Linked DNA regions of Homo sapiens: region 2 is reported to be linked to region 1. Evidence: microRNA targets listed by miRTarBase, many of them from high-throughput screens and not tested one by one. Region 1 holds a microRNA gene; the other region holds the end of a gene's coding sequence.
What was found. The annotated mature microRNA hsa-miR-8052 reads CGGGACUGUAGAGGGCAUGAGC and lies in region 1 at 2,974-2,995, opposite strand. An mRNA with a match to its seed (bases 2 to 7 or 8) in the 3' UTR can be bound and repressed. Matches are read on the target gene's strand: a 7mer-m8 pairs with bases 2 to 8, a 7mer-A1 pairs with bases 2 to 7 and ends in A, and an 8mer does both.

Region 1 (10,161 bases):
GCGATCTCGGCTCACTGCAACCTCAGCCTCCCGGGCTCAAGTGATTCTCCTGCCTCAGCCTCCGGAGTAGCCGGGATTACAGACACGCACCACCACACCTGGCTAACTTTTGTATTTTTAGTAGAGACGGGGTTTCCCCACGTTGATCAGGCTGGTCTCGAGCTCCTGACCTCAGGGGATCCACCCACCTTGGCCTCCCAAAGTGCTGAGATTATAGGTGTGAGCCATCGCACCCAACCAAATTTTATTTTTTTAGTTTTAGATTCAGGTGTGTTATGTGGATAGATTGTGTGAGGCCGAGGTTTGGGAGCACAGTGCACAGCAGGTAGTTTTTCAACTCCTGCCCCTCTCCCTCCCTTCTTTTGGACTCCCCGGTGTCTATTGTTCCCGTCTTGATTTCCACTGTACCTAATGCTTAGTGCTCCCTTAAAAGTGAGAACAGGTGGTATGTGGTTTTTTTACTTGACATTTCTTTATTAATCTTTTCAGGTAGGACAGCTTCTGCCATATCTGCAGCTTCTGCCATATCTGCAGCTTCTGCCACATCTGGGTCCGACTGGTGCACAAAGCACGCAGAGGACATGACAGTGGATGAGGAATGAGAGATGACCTGGGGTCAGACTATGAAGGGTCTTTTAAGCCATGATGTGTTTGGACCTTGGTAAGTAATAGGAACCACTAAAACTTTTTTTTTTTGAGATGGAGTCTTGCTCTGTCACCCAAGCTAGAGTGCAGTGGCGTGATCTCAACTCACTGCAGCCTCCACCCCCTGGGGAACCATTAAAATGTTTTAAACAAGGGAGTGACTTGACCACATGGCATGTTTTAAAAAGCTATCTCCACGGCTCCAGTATGCTGACTGCAGACCAGAAGTCCAACTAGGAGGGTCCTGAAGCAATTTGGGGTGCCTGTGATTATTGAATAAAGGAACAGCATTGGGGATTCAGAGACAAGAATAGACTCAAGGGACATTTAGAAATTACTATCCATAGAACCTGGTTATTGATTGGACATCACATATAAAGGAGAAGCTAGAGTCAAAAACCACACTTAAGTTTGTAGCTTGGATACCTGAGTTTTTGGTGGTGATTCCTCTAAGATAGAAGACAAAATGGAGGAATTCAGCCTGGGTGGAAAGATGCTGAACTCAATTTTGGACATATTGAGCCTCACAATCTTGTGAGACATTCACATAAAGGTGTTGAGTGTCTGGTTGGATTCATGTGTGTGATGCTCAGAAGAACATCTTGGGCTGAATACTTAGATTTGTGAGTAATCAATACACAGAAAGAAATTCAAGCCATTACAATAAATAAAATGGCCTGCCTGAGATACAGAATGAAACGTTGGCCTAAGAGAAGATATCTAAAAGATTGTCATGAATCAATAAGAAAATGACAATAAACCCAATAAAATGTGCAAAATACATTTTTAAAATATTTCACACAAGAAGAAAACCATAAAAAAAAGCATGAAAAGATTCTTCACTGCCCTACTAGTCAAGGGTACGCAATTGCATTTCCACAATGAGATAGTTTTTATGCCACTAGATTGACAAAAATTAATATCTGACAATGTCAAATAAGGATTTGAAAAGGTTTATACTTTACTGGTGAGATTGTATAATTGCTTTGGAAAACATTTCAGCATTATCTTGTGAAGCATACCACATAATTCTACTCCTAGGTATCCACCCTAGAGAAACTCTTGAATATGTGCACCAGGAGACATATTCAAAAGTGACTTCAGGACCTTTGTTCATAATAGTACAATACTAAAGGCAACCTAAAGAGTCAACAGCAGAGAATGGATAAGGGGCAATGTATCCATGAAAAGTATCATAATAAAGCAGTAGAAAAAAATGAATTGCACACATGTGTGAGAACATTAAGGAATCTTAGAAACATGATGTTGAATGGAAAAGGAAAGAACCCAGAAGACTTTGATTTATTCAGTTGGTGCGAACGTAATTGCAAAAACCTCATTACGTTTGCATCAACCTAATAGATATTATTTTAATAAACCTAAAAATAAGCAAAACTGGGCAAAATATTATTTACATATGCATGCATTTGGGATAAAACAAAACAAAAAATCAAAAGAATAATTCTAAAATTCAGGATAGTGGTTCTCTCTGTGCGGAAAAGAAAAGCAGGACACAGAAGGAGGTTAGGAGCAGAAGTGAGGGTGGATACGAGTTACTGGGAATGGACTTGTCCTTTGCTTGACTGCTGGGTTCAGAAATGTTCATCATACTATATTTTGTAACTTACACATATTATAAATAGTCTCAAATAGCATACTAAAATTAATACAAAAAATGAAAAAAATCGCACTTAGAGTTACAATTTTTTTCATCCTAATTAAGACAGACTTCTGGATTTAAGGACTGCATGAGTTTACTCTTTTGTTAAAATTGCTTTTACCAAAATTTTAGGACTTTAACTTCCTCCCTAGGTGGAAATATATGGCCCAACCACAGGACACACCAAGGACCATGGAGTGTGCATTTTGGGGTAATAAATTACCCTTGGCTTCCTTTTACTCACTGTATTTCCCATCACTCTGACTCATTCAATTATTTATTTCCACTCATTTGTATTGTGTGCATTTGTATAAGCCACCTCAGATTCTTTGTAGAATGAGGTGCAAGTATTCAAAATTAAAACATTCTACCCCATGAGGGTAGAAAAAAAACCTCAAAATTCTGTCATACTTTTTCCCATTTATGGCAGGAAATGCAGAAAAGTGGCCAATTCCTTTCCTCCAGATGGCAGGCTGCGGCTAAAAGTCTAACAGCACTCCCTGACAGCCTGGAGGTGGCCAGAAAAGCCACACACAGGCTGCAAGAGAGGATGTGTGGCCCACCAAGCCCTGGCACTCTGGATTCTCAGCCAGAGTCTTAATTAAATCAGATACCATTTTGAGAAGGCTTCCAGAGGCCTTGCACCATGAGCTGGCCTGAGCTCCTGAGCTCATGCCCTCTACAGTCCCGCAGCCCTCCAGACCAGGGAGACAAGGGATCTCCTACGGCTGGCACCCTCCTTCATTACCCACAGATGCCCAGTTGTGCCTGTCCCACAGAATAATAATAGGCCACTCTATCCAAAGTTGCCATATCCAATGAGATACAACCCAATTGCCAGGGAAGCTGCTCCTGCCTGCATTGTACCTAATTTGTTGGCCACAGGAAGGGTTTTCTGCATCCCAGAGAAGGTCAGGATCATTAGTTTCTGACTCTATATCAGTGTAGTAAAACTTAAAGAAGTCATAGTTCCAGTCCTGATTTAGCTTGGCTGGATCCCCACCCACCCAGTCCAAGGGGACTCCAGAAAATAAACTAGGCATTTATACCCACTGTTGAGGAAGAATCTGCTTCAAGCCACAAGGTGAGGGCTGGAGAAGCTTCCATTAGCCATTATTCGCCAGCCATGGTATCCCTAATCACACAGATGGCTATGACCCATAAGTCTCTTTAATAACACTGTCCACTGTTTCCCATGAGATGTCTACCATCAGATTGCCTATAAGAATAGTTTCAGATGAAGAAGGAGGAGGAAGAAGAGAAAGAGAAAGAAAAAGAGGAAAAGGAAGAGGAGGAGGAGGAGGGGGAGGAAAAGGAAGACGAGGAGGGACAGGAAGAGGAGGAAGAACTACATATCCTCACATGATGTGTATGGCTGTGAGATTGACGCATTCCACAAGCTCTGCACCTACACCAATATATTAAAATCACACTGGAGCGGGGACCTCCGCAGATCCTCCTTCTCCCTGTATAAGCCCCAGTGAACTTCGTAATTTTTTTTAAGTTGGAGGGACAAAAGAAGTTGCCTCTTCCAGGCATATTCAGATCTCAAGATAGTCATCATTCTTTACCACCACCTCTTCCTACAATCTCTTGAACCAGCTCTGTGCAGGATGAGCCTTTATGAAATTCATGCTCAGAGGCACCCACAACTTTGTCTCTAGAAAAATGATGAGTGGAGGATGGGCTTCTAAATGTGCTCAACTCATTTTGAATGCACAAGAAAGCCATTTGGCCCATGTGACATCTCAGCTATCTTCCAGAACTTACTGAATGGCAACTTTGAAGAGCCCCTGTCCTGAGGGCTTGGGATCTAATTGGATGATATCCCTACCTGACGCCATAGGTGGAAAAAAAACCTGTTTTGAGACGGACTTAACCAGCAAACACAGTGTGTGCTGTGGACCAAATCAAAAATCCTCCTATGTAAGCAATGAGGTAGAGTTCTTGCATCTTGTCTTGTCGATTTGATAGCCTAAGCATTAGAGGATGGGCTATTAGAATCTACTCAAAGGGCTGGGGGAGGTGGCTCACGCCTGTAATCCCAGCACTTTGGGAGGCCGAGACGGGATCACTTGAGCTCAGGAGTTAGAGACCAGCCTGGCCAACATGGCAAAACCCCATCTCTACTCAAAATACAAAAATTAGCTGGGCATGTTGGCACGCACCTATAATCCCAGCTACTCAGGAGGCTGACGCAGAAGAATGGCTTGAACCCGGGAGACAGAGGCTGCAGTGAGCCGAGATCACGCCACTGCACTCCAGCCTGGGTGACGGAGTGAGATTCCGTCTCAAAAAAAAAAAAAAAAAAAAAATCTACAGGGAAAGAAATGCTGGACCCCTGCAAAATCCCATCAAACCATAGCATATGGTTTATTGAGAGAACAGTGGCCAGAAACAGAACAGACTCTGCTTTCTACTTGAGAAGTAGAAACTCAGAGCCAAGCAAGGCCTTCTTTTGGGTAAGTCCAGGGAGAGCACAGCCTCCTCCACTCAGGAAAAGGGGTACAAAGTGAAGGAAAGGGCATGTTCATATAGGGCCACCTTTCATAGTTGCCCCTACTCTCGTCTCCATAAAGAGCTGCAAACCTCTGCACTCATTGACCAAGGGAGCTCCTCTAAGTTTTTCCTCTCACCTTTGCTCCTACTGATGTAGAACAATTGCAATTTCTAAGTCCAATAGTAGAAAGGCAATAGCATCTTTGAAAAATGTTGAGAAATGCAGTTTCCTCCCACGGGCACACACATTCAGCTCCTTCCTCTCTGCCTGAGGCTTTCTCATGGGCAGGCTACCTGGCTTTCTCACTTGGCTTCTCTCCAAGACACCCCCTCTCAGATCACATAGAGAGGTTTCCATGCCTGACCCTGACTGCTGACAAAACACCCAAGACCCCTGCTCTTCTAGCTGATTAATAAAGTTAAGAAATAACATGAAAAGGTAAGCATTTTTATCATTATTATCCTGAGTAGAGAACCCTGCTTAACCATTCCCTGACGTCTGATTGATTTCTGGTCTCAGTTTTAAATTGCATTTGCAGAATACAAATTGCATTGAGGTTGGCATCGCTAAAGATTATTTCATGGAACACTAGTCTGAGAAAATGCCTCTAAAAACAGAGAGAGCCCATGGTTAGAATATGTATATTTTCTTGCATAATACGTGCTTCCCCTAGGTTTTCTCATGATTATTTATATTCAAACTTCTCATCGAGCCAGTTTTACTAGATTTCACCTTTTTTTAATAACACCTATGAGCAGAAGAATTGTGGAGAATACACTTTGGACAATGCTGTTCTAACCATATCTTGGAATGGAGATTGCAGGTAGGAAAGTTCAAGTCCCCATTTATTTTAGAAAATGATTTATATACATATCAATGATCTTTAAAAGCAGGGTTTACTTTTTAGACTTCTGTATACATTGCAATTGCATTGTTAAAACACAACCTAGCAGGCAAATATTCTTTAGGCTCTATCCCATAGAACATCCTTTCAACTTATCCTTGGAGGACTTTTACAAGATCCTTCCTCAACTTAGGGGAAGAGGATGGCCAAATGATTTTTTTTAATTTATTTTTATTATACTTTAAGTTCTAGGGTAACTGGACACAACGTGCAGGTTTGTTACATAGGTATACATGTGCCATGTTGGTTTGCTGCACACATCAACTAGTCATTTACATTAGGTATTTCTCCTAATGCTGTCCCTCCCCCTGCCCCGCACCCCGCGACCGGCCCTGATGTGTGAATGAATATCTGTTACTCCTTTCTTTCATTTTTTCCTTCCAGTAGTTAAATTTTTTTTTCACTTCACAAACGACTATAAATTTAAGCTATAATGAGATATCATTAGATAGCCATGACTGTGTCATATGATACCCGTATGTTTCAATTTTTTCTTTTTTTTTAATTATACTTTAAGTTTCAGGGTACCTGCGCACAACGTGCAGGTTTGTTACATATGTATACATGTGCCATGCTGGTGTGCTGCACCCATTAACTCGTCATTTAACATTAGGTATATCTCCTAATGCTATCCCTCCCCCCTTCCCCCACCCCACAACAGGCCCCGGTGTGTGATGTTCCCCTTCCTGTGTCCATGTGATCTCATTGTTCAATTCCCGCCTATGAGTGAGAACATGCGGTGTTTGGTTTTTTGTCCCCGAGACGGAATGTCGCTTGTTGCCCAGGCTGGAGTGCAATGGCGCGATCCTGGCTCACTGCAACCTCTCTGCGTCCTGGGTTCAAGCGATTCTCCTACCTCAGCCTCCCGAGTAGCTGGGATTACAGGCACATGCCACCACACCCGGCTAATTTTTGTATTTTTAGTAGAGACGGGGTCTCACCATGTTGGCCAGGCTGGTCTCAAACTGCTGATCTCAGGTGATCCAACCGCCTCGGCCTCCCAAAGTGCTGGGATTACAGGCATGAGCCACCGCGCCTGGCCATGTTTCACTTTTGAAGAAACTGCCAAACTGTTTCCAAAGGGGCTGCATATTTTACATTTTCACCAATACTGTGTGGGAAATAGTTCCTCCACATCCTTATATACACTGGGTAGGGGTCAGAGATTTTAAAGTCAGACATTCTAATAGGGTTATAGTTGTATCTCGTTATGGTTTTAATTTGTATTTTCATTTCTCTAATAAAAATGATGTCAAACATCTTTTCATATGTTTATTTGCCATCTGTGTATCTCTTTGGTAAAACATCTGTTCAAATCTTTTGCCCATTTTTCAATTGGATTGTCTGTTTCCTTATTATAGAGATTTTATATTTAGGATACAAATCTTTTGTGTAATTTGCAAGTATTTTTTCCCTGATGGTGGCATTCTTAATTTTGATGAAGTCCAACTTAATGATTTTTATTTCCTGGATCATGCTTTTGATGTTGTATCTAAAAAATCTGTGCCTAACCTAAGTTTGTAAAGATCTGTCTCCTAACTTTTTTCCTAGATGTTTTATGGTGTTGGGCTTTATGCTTGGTTCTAGGATCAATTTGATCCATTTTGAGTTAATTTTGCATGTGGTACAAGGTACGGATCAAAGTTCTTTCTTTATTTTTTTTTTAATATGTGTGTCCCATTGTTCCAGCACCATTTGTTTAAAGACCATCCATTCTTCACTGGATGGACTGGCTTTGCATCATTGTTCAAAAGCAATTGACAACTTCCAACTTCCACTTGTAAAGAGCTTGCCATCACTTCCAGCCTCACAAGGAAAATACTGAACAAACTGAAAATCAACAACTCTTCTTTGATCAATCAGAGAAAGGTCACAGGCCATGCTACTACCCCAAAAACTGAGAGAAAGGTAGATGCACAGAATGAGAGCTTACAGGAGCAGAAGCCCCAGCTGTGGTAGGAACACCTAAACAATAATTGACTCATTGCTGGAGACCAAGCTATGGACTAAAAAGTCCTAGCAGCCCATTCTTAGGGGAGCCCCACACTTTCATAAGTTTTACGTCCAGGAGCCCCACCCAGATCTCAGAGTGAAAATTAGAGAAAATCTCCTCTTGTTTCCAGCAAGGGGAGAGGAGCAATCATTTTGAAATATGTTCAGGGTGATCTCTTCCCCTTAACAAAGGCCTGCCCCCAAAGGAACCTCTTCTACTGGGGCATAACTGGGGGTTTTATCAGATCCTGATGGGCCTGTGGGAAGGGATGTCCCCAACACCAGCTCCCTGTGGCTGTCTATGTGGGGTAAGGGAAATAGCTCCAGCCTCCTCTAGCCTTCTTGTTTCTCCAAACGGGAAAGGGAAAGTTGAGAAGCACCCCTGAATGTCACACCTCAGCAGCACAGACTCTCAATGACTGACATCCAGTCACAGGATAATAGAAAGTTTCCCTTCCCCCCAACATATTACCACCATATCAGTAGGGCTCCTGCACACCATCGTTTATCACAGCTTCATTTCTAATTGCCAGAAACAGGAAGATGCCCTTCAGTAGGCGGACGGATAAACAAACCATGGCACATCTATTCGCACTAAAAAGAAATGAGCTGTCAAGCTAGGAAAAGACATGGATGAAACCTTAAATGTATATTTCTAAGGGAAAGCATCCATTCTAAGAGGGCTATCTGTTGTATGACTCCAATTATATAACATTCTGGGAAAAGCAAAACTGTAAAGGCGGTAAAAAATAAATAAATAAATAAGTAATTGCCAGGGGAGGGGAGGTTTTCAGGGGGAGGGAGAGTGAGATGAATAGGTGGGACACAAGGGATGTTTAGGGTAGTGAAAGTATTCTGTAAGATATTGTAACTGTGGATACATAATATTATTTATTTGTCAAAATCCATAGAACATACAACACTAAGAGTGAAGCCTAGTATAAACTATGGGCTTCAGTAAATAATAATGTATCAGTGTAGGTTCACCAGAGGTAGCAAATGAACCACACTGAGGCAAGATGTTAATAACAGGGGAAACTGGTAGGGTGGTGAGCGGAAAGTAGTACAGAGGTTTATGGGAACTCTGCACTATCTGCTCAATGTTTCTGTAAGCCTAAAAATTCTCTTTAAAAAAAGATATATTAATAAATAAAATCTAGGCCAGGTGCTGTGGCTCATGCCTGTAATCCCAGCACTTTGAGAGGCCAAGGCTGGCAGATCACCTGTGGTCAGGAATTTGAGACCAGCCTGGCCAACATGGTGAAACTCTTTCTCTACTAAAAATACAAAAAGTAGATGGGTGTGGTGGTGCACACCTGTAATCCCAGCTACTAGGGAGGCTGGGGCAGGAGAATCTCTTGAACCTGAGAGGCAAAGGTTGCAGTGAGCCAAGATCACGCCATTGCACCCCAGCCTGGGCGACAGAGTGAGACTCAATCTCAAAAAATAATAATAATAAAATAAAATTTAGAAATCAACTGACTGCATATGCTATGTATGTGTGGATCTATTTCTAGACTCTATTACATTCCTTTAGCCTATTTGTCCCCCTTGAGTTCAATGCTACGTTTTAACTTTATAATAATCTTTAATGTGTCTTCAAGGCTTATTTCAAAGTTGTTCTTCTTCAAAGTTGTTTTGACTATTCTAGGTCCTTTATATTACCAGATGAATTCTTAAATCAGCTTGAAATTTTCTATACAAAAGCCTGCTGGAATTTTGATTGGGTTGCATTGAATTTATAGACCAATATAGGGAGAATTAACATCTTAACAATGCTGACTCTCCCAACCTATAAACAAGATACATGGCACATTTGAGTATTCTTTAATTTTCTCTCAGCATTGCCTTGTGTTTTCAGAGTACATGTCTTGCACATCATTTGCCGTATTTATCCCAAAATATTTTGTATTTTGATTTTATTGTAAATGGTGTTTTTATTTTAATTTTGATTGTCTATTGCTACAACATAAAAATATAGTTTATTTTCAAACCTATTTTGTGCTTTGCAGGATATAAGGCTAATAAATAATAAGAATTTGTTTGTTTGTTTGTTTATTTGTTTTTTAAGGGAGACAGGGTCTTGCTCTGTCACCCAGTCTGGAGTCCAGTGGTGAGATCATAGCTCAGTGTAGCCTTGAACCCCCGTGCTTAAGCAATCCTCCTGCCTCAGACTCACGAGTTGCTGGGCCTACAGCCACACACCACCACCAACCCCAGCTAATTTATTTTTTATTTTTGTAGAGACAGGGTCTCGCTATGTTGAGCAGGCTGGTCTCAAACTCCTGGCCTCAAGAGATCCTCCTACCTTAGCATCCCGAAGTGTTAGGATTACAGATGTGAGCCACCACACCTGGCCTCTGTAGTGTTCTTCGTGAGACTTTTAGCTACAAATTCCATTTTTAAAATAGATACAGGGCTATTCAAGTTATTTTTCTTGAGTGAGCTTTGGATATTTAT
Region 2 (10,161 bases), not on the chromosome of region 1:
ACCAGTCACATTGCATCCTGATCCACAGTACTCATTTCAGCCTTAAAAAGGAATGGGCGGCTGGGCGCCGTGGCTCACACCTGTAATCCCAGCACTTTGGGAGGTCAAGGTGGGTGGATCATTTGAGCTCAGGAGTTCGAGACCAGCCTGGGCAATGTGGCAAAGCCCCATTTCTATAAAAAATACAAAAATTAAGCAAGCATGGTGGTGCACACCTGTGGCCCCAGCTGCTTGGGATGCTGAGCTGGGAGGATCACTTGAGCCCAGGAGTGCAAGGCTGCAGTGAGCTATGACTCTACCACTGTACTCTAGCCTGGGTGACAGAGTAAGACCCTGTCTCAAAAAAATAAAAATTTTAAAAAAAGAAAAGAGGCTGGGCTCGGTGGCTTACACCTGTAATCCCAGCACTTTGGGAGGCCGACACAGGTGGATCACCTGAGGTCAAGAGTTGGAGACCAGCCTGGGCAACATGATGAAACCCTGTCTCTACTAAAACTACAAAAGTTAGCCAGGTAAGCTACTCGGGAGGCTGAAGCAGAAGCATCACTTGAACCCGGGAGGCAGAGGTTGCAGTGAGCCGAGATCACGCCACTGCACTCCAGTCTGGGCAACAAGAGCGAAACTCCGTCTTGAAAAAAAAAATAAGAAAAACTACGACGCTCTACGCTCATCCTCAGAGGCAGAAGGGCAGAAATCACCAGCTCACACCCCCGGGCAATGGCCACGTGCTGGAGCGCCTTCCATCCCCGTTCCCTTTCCAGCCTCCAGAAACTCCACGAGGTCCTGGACATGAGTCTGCATCTCTTGGGAGGTGCTGAGTGGGTGTCTCTCCCTGAGCTGCACTGACACCTGCTGGAGGCTCTGACGGCCTCAGTCCACGAAGGCCCATGGCAGGGACTGCTCCTTGTAGCTCATCCATCACCAGCTCCACACAGTCAAAGACCTTCTCCTGGGTCAGGTGCAGTGGCTCACGCCTGTAATCTCAGCACTTTGGGAGGCCAAGGCAGGCGGATCACCTGAGGTCAGGAGTTCAAGACCAGCCTGACCAACATGGTGAAACCCCATCTCTACTAAAAATACAAAGTTAGCCAGGTGTGGTGGCACATGCTGCAATCTCAGCTACTTGGAAGGCTGAGACAGGAGAATAGTGTGAACTCAGAAGGCGGTTACAGTGAGCCGAGATCGCACCACTGCACTCCAGCCTGGGCGACAGAGCGAGACTCCGTCTCAAAAAAAAAAAAAAAAAGAACACAGTCTGGGCCAGGTGTGGTGGCTCAAGCCTGTAGTCCCAGCACTTTGAGAAGCCAAAGCAGGAGGATCCCTTGAGCCCAGGAGTTTGAGACTAGCTTGGGCAACATAGTGAAACCTCATCTGTACAAAAAATGAACAAAATTAGCTGGGCGTGGTGACATGCACCTGTAGTCCCAGCTACTCGGGAGGCTGAGGCAGGAGGATTGCTTGAGCCTGTTGCTATGTGCTTGAGCAATGTGCTATGATCATGCCATTACACTCCAGCCTGGGCAACCGAGTGAAACTCTGTCTGGAAAAAAAAAAGTATACTGTAGTTTCACTTCAACTTCAGAAATTCTGACTTTGGTTGATCCTCTGAACATGTAATCGCAGACACTCAACCTGATAGTGCAACAAAAACTGATCCCAAGCCTGAGGCTCTGAAGAAACCTCTGCTATGGATTCCTTCATCTCAACCACAGGTATTGCCAGAAACAAATCTGATGCTTTTTCTTTTGGGTATTCAAAACATTTTTGTAGATTTTCATTGCTTTCCATTCTGTCTACAAAATGTTTCAAATCTTCAGAAAGAGAAGATACATTGGCTTTAAAACTTTCAAGGTGAAGCCAGGTGCGGTGGCTCACGCCTGTAATCCCAGCACTTTGAGAGGCCGAGGCAAGAGGATTGCTTGATCTCAGGAGTTCGAGACCAGCCTGGCCAACATATAGTGAAACCCCGTCTCTACTAAAAAAATACAAAAATTAGGCCGGGTGCAGTGGCTCACACCTGTAATCCCAGCACTTTGGGAGGCCAAGGTGGTGGATCACCTGAGATCAGGAGTTTGAGACCAGCCTGGCCAACATGGAGAAATCCTGTCTCTACTAAAACTACAAAAATTAGCTGGGCGTGGTGGCACATGCCTGTAATCCCAGCTACTCAGGAGGCTGAGGCAGGAGAATTGCCTGAACCCAGGAGGCAGAGGTTGCCGTGATCTGAGATTGCACCACTGCACTCCAACCTGGGAAACAGATTGAGATTCATCTCTCAAAAAAAATTTAAAAAAAAAACTTTCAAGATGGAAAACAATTTTTTATATATAATAAAGAATTGAAAGACAAAAAAAAAAAGAACCAAATGGAAATGGAAAGTTTGGAGTTAAAAAGCACAAAAACTGAAATGAGAAATCCACTAAAGAGGTTGAGCAACAGATTTTTTTTTTTTTTTTTTGAGATAAGTCTCGCTCTGTCTCCCAGGCTGGAGTGCAATGGCTCAATCTCGGCTCACTGCAACCTCTGCCTCCTGGATTCAAGTGATTCTCCTGCCTCAGCCTCCCGGGCAGCTGGAATTGTATGTGCTCGCCATGCAATTTGAGACTAGATCAATAGAAACTACCCAATGTGGGGCCGGACACGGTGGCTCATGCCTGTAATCCCAGCACTTTGGGAGGCCGAGGAGGGCGGATCATGAGGTCAGGAGATCGAGACCATCCTGGCTAACATGGTGAAACCCCGTCTCTACTAAAAAAATGCAAAAAAAAAAATTAGCCAGTCATGGTGGCAGGCGCCTGTAATCCCAGCTACTAAGGAGGCTGAGGCAGAATGGCGAGAACCCGGGAGGCGGAGCTTGCAGTGAGCCAAGATTGCGCCACTGCACTTCCAGCCTGGATGACAGAGCAAGACTCCATCTCAAAAAAAAAAAATGCAAAAAACTAGCCAGGCGTGGTGATGGGCGCCTGTAGTCCCAGCTACTTGGGAGGCTGAGGCAGGAGAATGGCATGAACCCAGGAGGCGGAGCTTGCAGTGAGCAGAGATCGCGCCACTGCACTCCAGCCTGGGCAACAGAGCGAGACTCTGTCTCAAAAAAAAAAAAAAAAACAAAAATTACCAGGACATGGTGGCACACGCCTCTGGTCCCAGCTACTCAGGAGGCCAAGGCAGGAGAATCGCTTGAACCTGGGAGTTTAAGGCTGCAGTGAGCCAAGATTGCACCACTAGCTGAGATTGCACCACTGCCCTCCAGCCTAGGTGACAGAGTGAGACCCTGTCTCAAACAAACAAACCAAAAAAAAAAAAAAAAGCTTTATTTCAAAAAGTTTGCCTAGGGCCAGGCATGGTGGCTCACGCCTGTAATCCCAGCACTTTGGGAGGTCTAGGCTGGAGGATCACTGTAAGTGGGGAGTTTGAGACCAGCCTGTCCAATATGGTATAACCCTGTCTCTACTAAAAATACAAAAATTAGCTGAGCATGTTGGTGCGTGCCTGCAATCCCAGCTACTCGGGAGACTGAGGCAGGAGAATTGCTTGAACCCAGGAGGTGGAAGTTGCAATGAGCCGAGATCATCGCACCATTGCACTCCAGCCTAGACAACAAGAGTGAAACTCCGTCTCAAAACAAAACAAAACAAAAAATTAGCTGGGCATGGTGGCACACACCTGTAGTCCCAGGTACTAGGGAGGCTACAGCAGGAGAATCCCTTGAACCCAGGAGGCAGAGGTTGCAGTGAGCCAAGATCGAGCCACTGCACTCCAGCCTGGGCGATAGAGCAAGACTGTCTCAAAAAAAAAAAATCAATAAAATTAGACAATTTAGATGAAATGGACAAATTCCTAGAAGTTCCAAGAAAGACACAAATTACCAAAACTGACTCAGGGACTTTGCAGATGTAGGTAAGTGTGGACCTTGGATGGGAAGATAATCCGTTATTACCCAGGTGGACACATTTACTTATTTATTTTATCTTTTTTGAGACATAGTCTCACTCTGTCGTCCAGGCTGGAGTGCAGTCGCAGGGTCTTGGCTCACTGCAAGCTCCACCTCCTGGATTCAAGCGATTCTCCTACCTCAGCCCCCCAAGTAGCTGGGATGACAGGAACTCGACACCACATCCGACTGATTTTTGTATTTTTAGTAGAGACAGGGTTCCACCATGTTGGCCAGGCTGGTCTTGAACTCCTGACCTCAGGTGATCTGCCCGCCTTGGCCTCCCAAAGTGCTGGGATTATAGGCGTGAGCCACTGCGCCTGGCCCAGGTGGACACATCTAGTCACATGGGTCTTTAAAAGCAGAAAACTCTTCCTGGCTGTGGTCGGAAGGATGCAGTGTTGCTGACCTTGAAAAATGCAGAGAATGGCCAGGCGCGGCGGCTCACGCCTGGAATCCCAGCACTTTGGAAGGCCGAGGTGGGAGAATCGCTTGAGCCCAGGAGGTCGAGGCTGTAGTGAGCCACAATCACGCCATTGCATTCCAGCCTGAATGACAGAGAGAACCTGTCTCTATTAAAAGAAAAGAGAAGCCAGGCACGTTGGCTCACAACTGTAATGCCAGCATTTTGGGAGGCTGAGATGGGTAGATCACCTGAGGTCAGGAGTTCGAGACCAGCCTGGCCAACATAGTGAAACTGAGTCCCTACTAAAAATACAAAAATTAGCTGGGTGTGGTGGTGGGCGTCTGTAATTCCAGCTACTCAGGAGGCTGAGGCAGGAGAATTACTTGAACCCAGGAGGTGGAGGCTGCAGTGAGTGGAGATCACACCACTGCACTCCAGCCTGGGTGACAGAGCGAGACCTTGTCTCAAAAAAAAAAAAAAAAGTCATTATGATGTGCACACACAGATCACGAGGGTTACTACGTAATGACACATGGCAGATGTCAAAGAATAACTCAGAGACAACTGCACAGAAACAGTTTCTGCACATATGAGGGAGAGCAGCTATGACATTTGGGATCATCTGGTTAGCTGGCAACTTCCCGCATGTCCAGCCTGGGTCATCTGCCCTCAGCACCTGTCCAGGGCAATTAAAGAAAATACTTTAGTTATTTATGGATTTCCTGGAAAGCCCGGATGTTTGAGCTGCAGACTGCATGTGAGCCCCAATCCTTCCATCAGCCTCCAGGTCCACACCACTTCCCCATTCAGAAGTTTCTCAAAACAAAACAAAAAACAAAACTCTCGATCAGCATGTCCTATTAAATAGAAGCTTAGAGAGAAATGGATAAATCTACCATAAATCTACAATTAGGGAAAGATTTCAGCATCCTCCTCAATTATTAACAGACCAGACAGACAAGAAACAAACCAAACAGTAGGTCGTCAGATTTGAACCACACAATTTATTAACAAGCATGATTTGTGGCCTCGTTTATTACCAGCCCCCACCCCAGCACTTGGTGCACATTCTCCTTAAGCGCAGAATTTGGCCTCAAGGTAATATTTTAGGAATAAATAAAAAGAGGCCGGGCACGGTGGCTCACACCTGTAATCCCAGCACTTTGGGAGGCCGAGGTGGGCGGATCACGAGGTCAGGAGTTCGTGACTAGCCTGGCCAACATAGTGAATCACCGTCTCTACCAACAATACAAAAAAATTACCCGGGCGTGATGGCGGGCGCCTGTAATCCCAGCTACTCGGGAGGCTGAGGCAGGAGAATCGCTTGAACCCAGGAGGCAGAGGTTGCAGTGAACCGAGATCGTGTCATTGCACTCCAGCCTGGGCAACAAGAGCAAAACTCTGTGTCAAAAAAAAAAGAAAGAAAGAAAGAAAGAGATAAAATTTCCCCTTAGGTCTGGACCTTTTGATACAAGCCGATGCTCAGCGGGTGTTGTTGACTGACAGGTGGATGAATGGCCCACGCTTGCCGGCAGGTGACACCTCCAGGTGGGTGCTCTGTGGGAAGGGGAGCTGACAGTCCTGGGGGTCCTGCCTGGGGAGCAGTGGGCACCCCAACATTCACCCATGCAGGGACTGGCAAACACACCCCCACTCTGCAGCTCTCTCTGTTACCACCTTGAAGCCAACACGAAGGCCAGACCAGAGCTGGGTGTCCCTCTGTGTGGGCTCCTGGGACAGATACTCGCCTGGGAGAGGTGGGGCTCCTTCTCCCAGCTCCTTCCCCTAGCCCTGGGGTTGGGGTGGACAGAGCTGGGCTGAACTCAGCCCTGGTTCCCAGCGCTGGCTAGCCGGTCCTGCACAGCCCCAGGAGGCAAAGGTTTCCTGGTAGCCCCCACCCCCACCCCGTGGAGCCGGACCCCTCCCCAAGACTCCAGGAGCAGCGGGAGTCCTCAGGACCCTCTGGGCAGGACGGGGCAGCCCTCTCGCTAGCGCTCCCGCCCTGGGCCCAGGACCTGCGCGCCGAGCTCGAGCTCCGCGGAGCCGCTGCCATCCGCCCAGAGATCCCAGACTTTCAAGCGGCCTGAATCCCCGTCTCCACTAGACGGCCCTCGCCCCCGACCACAGACACCAACCACCAGGGCGAGAATGGATGCGAGGCGGGGGAGAGAACAGGACACCCTCCGGGAAGCCGCAGGACCTCTGCTCAGGGAACTAGCGGGGCCCCTCCGGGGACACCGGCGCTGGTGGGCGCGGTCTCCGGGCTGAGTTCAGGCCTCGGGGCCGGAGGAGTCCCACTTGCCAGGGGCGCCCGCCGTGTGCGCTCGACTCGGGGCTTCCGGCGCGGCCCCGCCTCCACCTTCGCGGTGCCCCCACCTCGACGGCGCCCCGCACCGGCGTGAAACCTCCTCGCTGCCCTCTGAGCCCCTTTCGGGACTGGTCATCGCCGCCCCTGCGCTCCTCCCGGGCAGGCCCGGGTTGGGACTGCAGCGGGGCCGGCGGCGGGGACAGAGGATCGGGGCGGCCTGGGGGACTCAGGGCCCAGCCGCGCGCTCAGCCCCCGGCGACCACAGAAGCCACCGGCTGGGCCGGGCGCGCCACAAGGCGGCAGCAGCGGGGCTGCCGGGTGCGTCCCAGACACCGGGGCTGTGGGAGGAGGCGAGAACCGTCCCGAGGCAACCGCCGGCCCCGAGGAGACATGGCGCAAAAAACGCCCAAAGCACCTTCCCCTAAAGCCCCCGTGGGCGCGGTGGGCCCATCCACGGGAGGCGTCCAGGAGGGCTTCCGGGAGGCGGCGCGTGGGGAGTGTGGGGTGTGGGGTCGACTGGCGTGGGGAGGGCGCTCTGCGCAGAGGGTGCGGGTGGGCGGAACTCGGGGCACAAAAGGCCCCAGGGAAAGGGAGGTCGCGCAATCGTGGTGACCAGGGGACTGGCCACGGGCTAAGGGTCCCACGTGCGGAGAAGAGGGGGATGGGGAGAGGCCTAGGCACCTCCCGCTTGCCCCGCGGGCTCTCGGTCACCCAGTAAGCCCAAGCCAGGGCTGGCGGGCCCGGGGTTGGGGGGTCCAGGAAGGAGGGGGAGAGGCTGCCTGAGGCGCCTCCGCCTCCGCTCCCCTCCCCTTACTGTCAAGACACTCCAGCCTTGAGCTCCTGAAAACACGACCTGAGTGAGGGGTGGGGTGGGTGGAGAAGGCAGCCAGAGCCCCAGCACTGTCATGGTTGGCTGTGGCCTCCTCCGGGGTCATCTCCAGGGGGGCCGGAATGAGAACCCCACTTCAGCACTGAGCAACACGCGACCACCCCCAAGAGGCGGGGTCACGTCCCAGCTGTGTGACCCCGGGAATTGTTGGCCCTGAGATCATCCTTGTACCATGGGAACCCACCTCTTGGGGCCACAGGGAGAACGCACCAGACCATGCCTGGGACGCCCAGCAGGGCAATGGGCAAGTTTGGGAGGGAGGTGGCTGCTGTCCTGCCGCCCCCAGGGACAGACTCCGGACTCTGAGGCGGGTGTGGACCTGGAAGCAGAGCTCCAAGCTGATCCGCACCCACCAGCCGGGCAGCCACAAATTCACTAGAAACCTCAGGGGCCTGCACCAGCCCACAAGGTCCCTGGTCGCCCTCCTACTGCCGCCATCAACCCAAACGTCCCGTCCTGCGCCTCCACTACAGGAGGTTCACCGTGGCCACCACCTGCTTGCAGCCGGTGACGGCAAACTCGCGGCCAGCCACGCGGTAGAAGCTGAGCTGCGCGGCCAGGTTCTCCGCGCGGGCCTGGTCAGGAAAGAAGCCCTCACCCGCCATCTCGTCCCGGAAGCAGCTGACCACATCCCGCTTGTCCAGCAGCAGAAACGGCACGATGGCCGCGGCCTGCCACAGCGGATGCTCCCGGGACAGCACAGCCAGCAGGCTGGCGCGCAGGTCTTCTTCCGCCTGCGCCGCTGCGGCCTCGGCACTGCGGAAGCCGTCGGGGCGCAGGGGCAGCGCGCGGGACGCGTTCTGCAGCACGAAGCGCGTGACCTCGGCGCCACCCGCGCCACTGAGGAGCACGTAGATGGCGTTGTGGAAGTGGTGGGAGCGCTGCGGCTGCAGGAAGCCGTGCAGCTCGTCCAGCAGCGGCCGCGGCATGAGCTCCACGTCGTCCAGCACCAAGAGTGGGGTCTTCTCCTCCGCTTCGGCCCGCGCCACCACGTCGGCCACGCGCCGCGCCAGCTCCTCGCGGCAGTCCTGTGCGGCGCGCGCCTCGGGGCAGTGGTGCCGCGCATGGTATTGCAGCACGAGCGCGCTGTCCTCCAGCACCGAGCGGAAGTGGCGCGCCAGCAGGCGGCCCACGTGGCTCTTGCCCACGCCACTGGGCCCGTGCAGCGCCAGGAGGAGCGGACGACTGTGCACATGCGTGGCCAGGTAGTCCCGCATCAGCGCCACGATGCGCGATACGGCAGCGGGCTGGCCGAACACCGCGCGCTGCAGCGCTTTCTCCAGCCCGTCGAGGTCATAGCGCTGCGCGTTATCGTCCAGGTTCTCGATAGCGTTGAGAACTTGGAAGCCCACGATGGCGACTAGCAGCAGAAGGCAGCGCTGCGCGCGGCTCCTGTGCTCCACGCGCGGCCGATACTTGCGCGAGGTCTCCGGGTAAAGCACCAGGCGGCTGCGCCGGCGCTTCTTGCGTGGCGTCCTGGAGGGTAGCTCCGCGGGGCTGTCGAAGGTGAAGAACTTTGGCTGGTCCAGGTCCGCGCGCGGTGCCCGGGGGCTGCAGCCCGGCCTGGGCGCCCCGGTCCCGACGTCGGGCCCCCCACCCGGCTGCAGGAGGCGCCGTTTGCGTAGGACACACACCCGGCGGCGCAGGCGGAGCACAGCGCGCACGGGCGCGATCACGCACCGGCCCGAGGCTCGGGGGGCCGCGGCAGCAGGCTCCAGGCTGGGCTGGCCGCGGTCCATGTCGCAGGAACGGCGCTCCGCATACAGGTCGCCCTCCCTGCAACGGGAAGACGGGGAGGGTCTCTGGACTCCCGCCACTGCCCTTTCCCGCGGGCCGCCGGAACCGGTCCCCGGAGTGATCTTACCCCCTGGGAGTCCCGTGGGGTGCGGCCCGGGCTGCCCCAGGGCCAGGGGCCTGGTCGCGGCCTCGCCCCTCAGACCGGCAAGCGACCCCTCCGCCCCTCCGCCCCTCCGCCCCTCCGCAGGGCCCCGATGCAAATCTCTCGGGTCTTCCCATAAACGGCCGCGGGCCTTGAGGAAGTGGCGGGGTAGAGGCTTATCTGGTGGCCGCCCCGGCTTCCTGGAGGAGTCGTCGAAGGAGTCAGTGGCCGCCCAGGCGCCCACTGGGGTGAACAGTCACCCCCGGACCCTGCCCCCGCCCGCGGCTCCCACTGGACTGGGCCGTCTCCCAAGGAGGGGCCGCGGGAAGCAGAGGCCTGAGCGCCCAGGAGTTCAGAGACGCCCCCACACGCTCCAGAACACTTGGCGGGGGTCTGGCTGGAACTTATGATTTTGAGAATAGGCCCGGGCCCCGTCCCCAGGCTCAACCCAGGCCTCCCAGCCCCGACTCCAAAACTGGGGTCCTCCCAACACCCCTCCAGTGAACGAGCTGAGCAGTGCAGGGAGCCCCCCGGAGACTAGTGGAGGTGAAACGAAAAGATGGACAGAAAGAAGAGGCCGGTCGGAGCAAGAGAGCCACTGACTGGCAGGAACTGGGCCCTGGGCCCCAACCCACCCCCTACCTGCAGCTGGTCCACTGCCCTCAGCTCCGCAGGCCCCTGCCTGTGCCAGACGCTGGGGCCTGAGACTCCAAGCAGGAAATGCGCCTCCCAGGGCGAGGGGGTGGGC

Region 2: the mRNA of TOR4A is a reported target of hsa-miR-8052. Seed matches in the 3' UTR shown: 7mer-m8 at 7,262-7,268, 8mer at 6,817-6,824, 7mer-m8 at 6,770-6,776 and 7mer-m8 at 5,969-5,975.

The regions. Positions count from the first base shown.
Region 1 is chr11:130,659,579-130,669,739 of GRCh38, reverse strand. MIR8052 (microRNA 8052) reads right to left here and starts at 3,005; the gene lies at 2,937-3,005.
Region 2 is chr9:137,277,802-137,287,962 of GRCh38, reverse strand. It overlaps TOR4A (torsin family 4 member A), which reads right to left. Exons shown (of 2, transcript NM_017723.3): 1 at 10,056-10,161; 2 at 5,322-9,310. The coding sequence starts at 9,273. The coding sequence ends at 8,002. Among named protein-coding and RNA genes, the nearest start is that of TOR4A, 5.2 kb to the right of the region's middle. RefSeq lists an enhancer at 744-793 and silencers at 1,094-1,193, 6,772-7,011, 9,677-9,736, 10,017-10,161.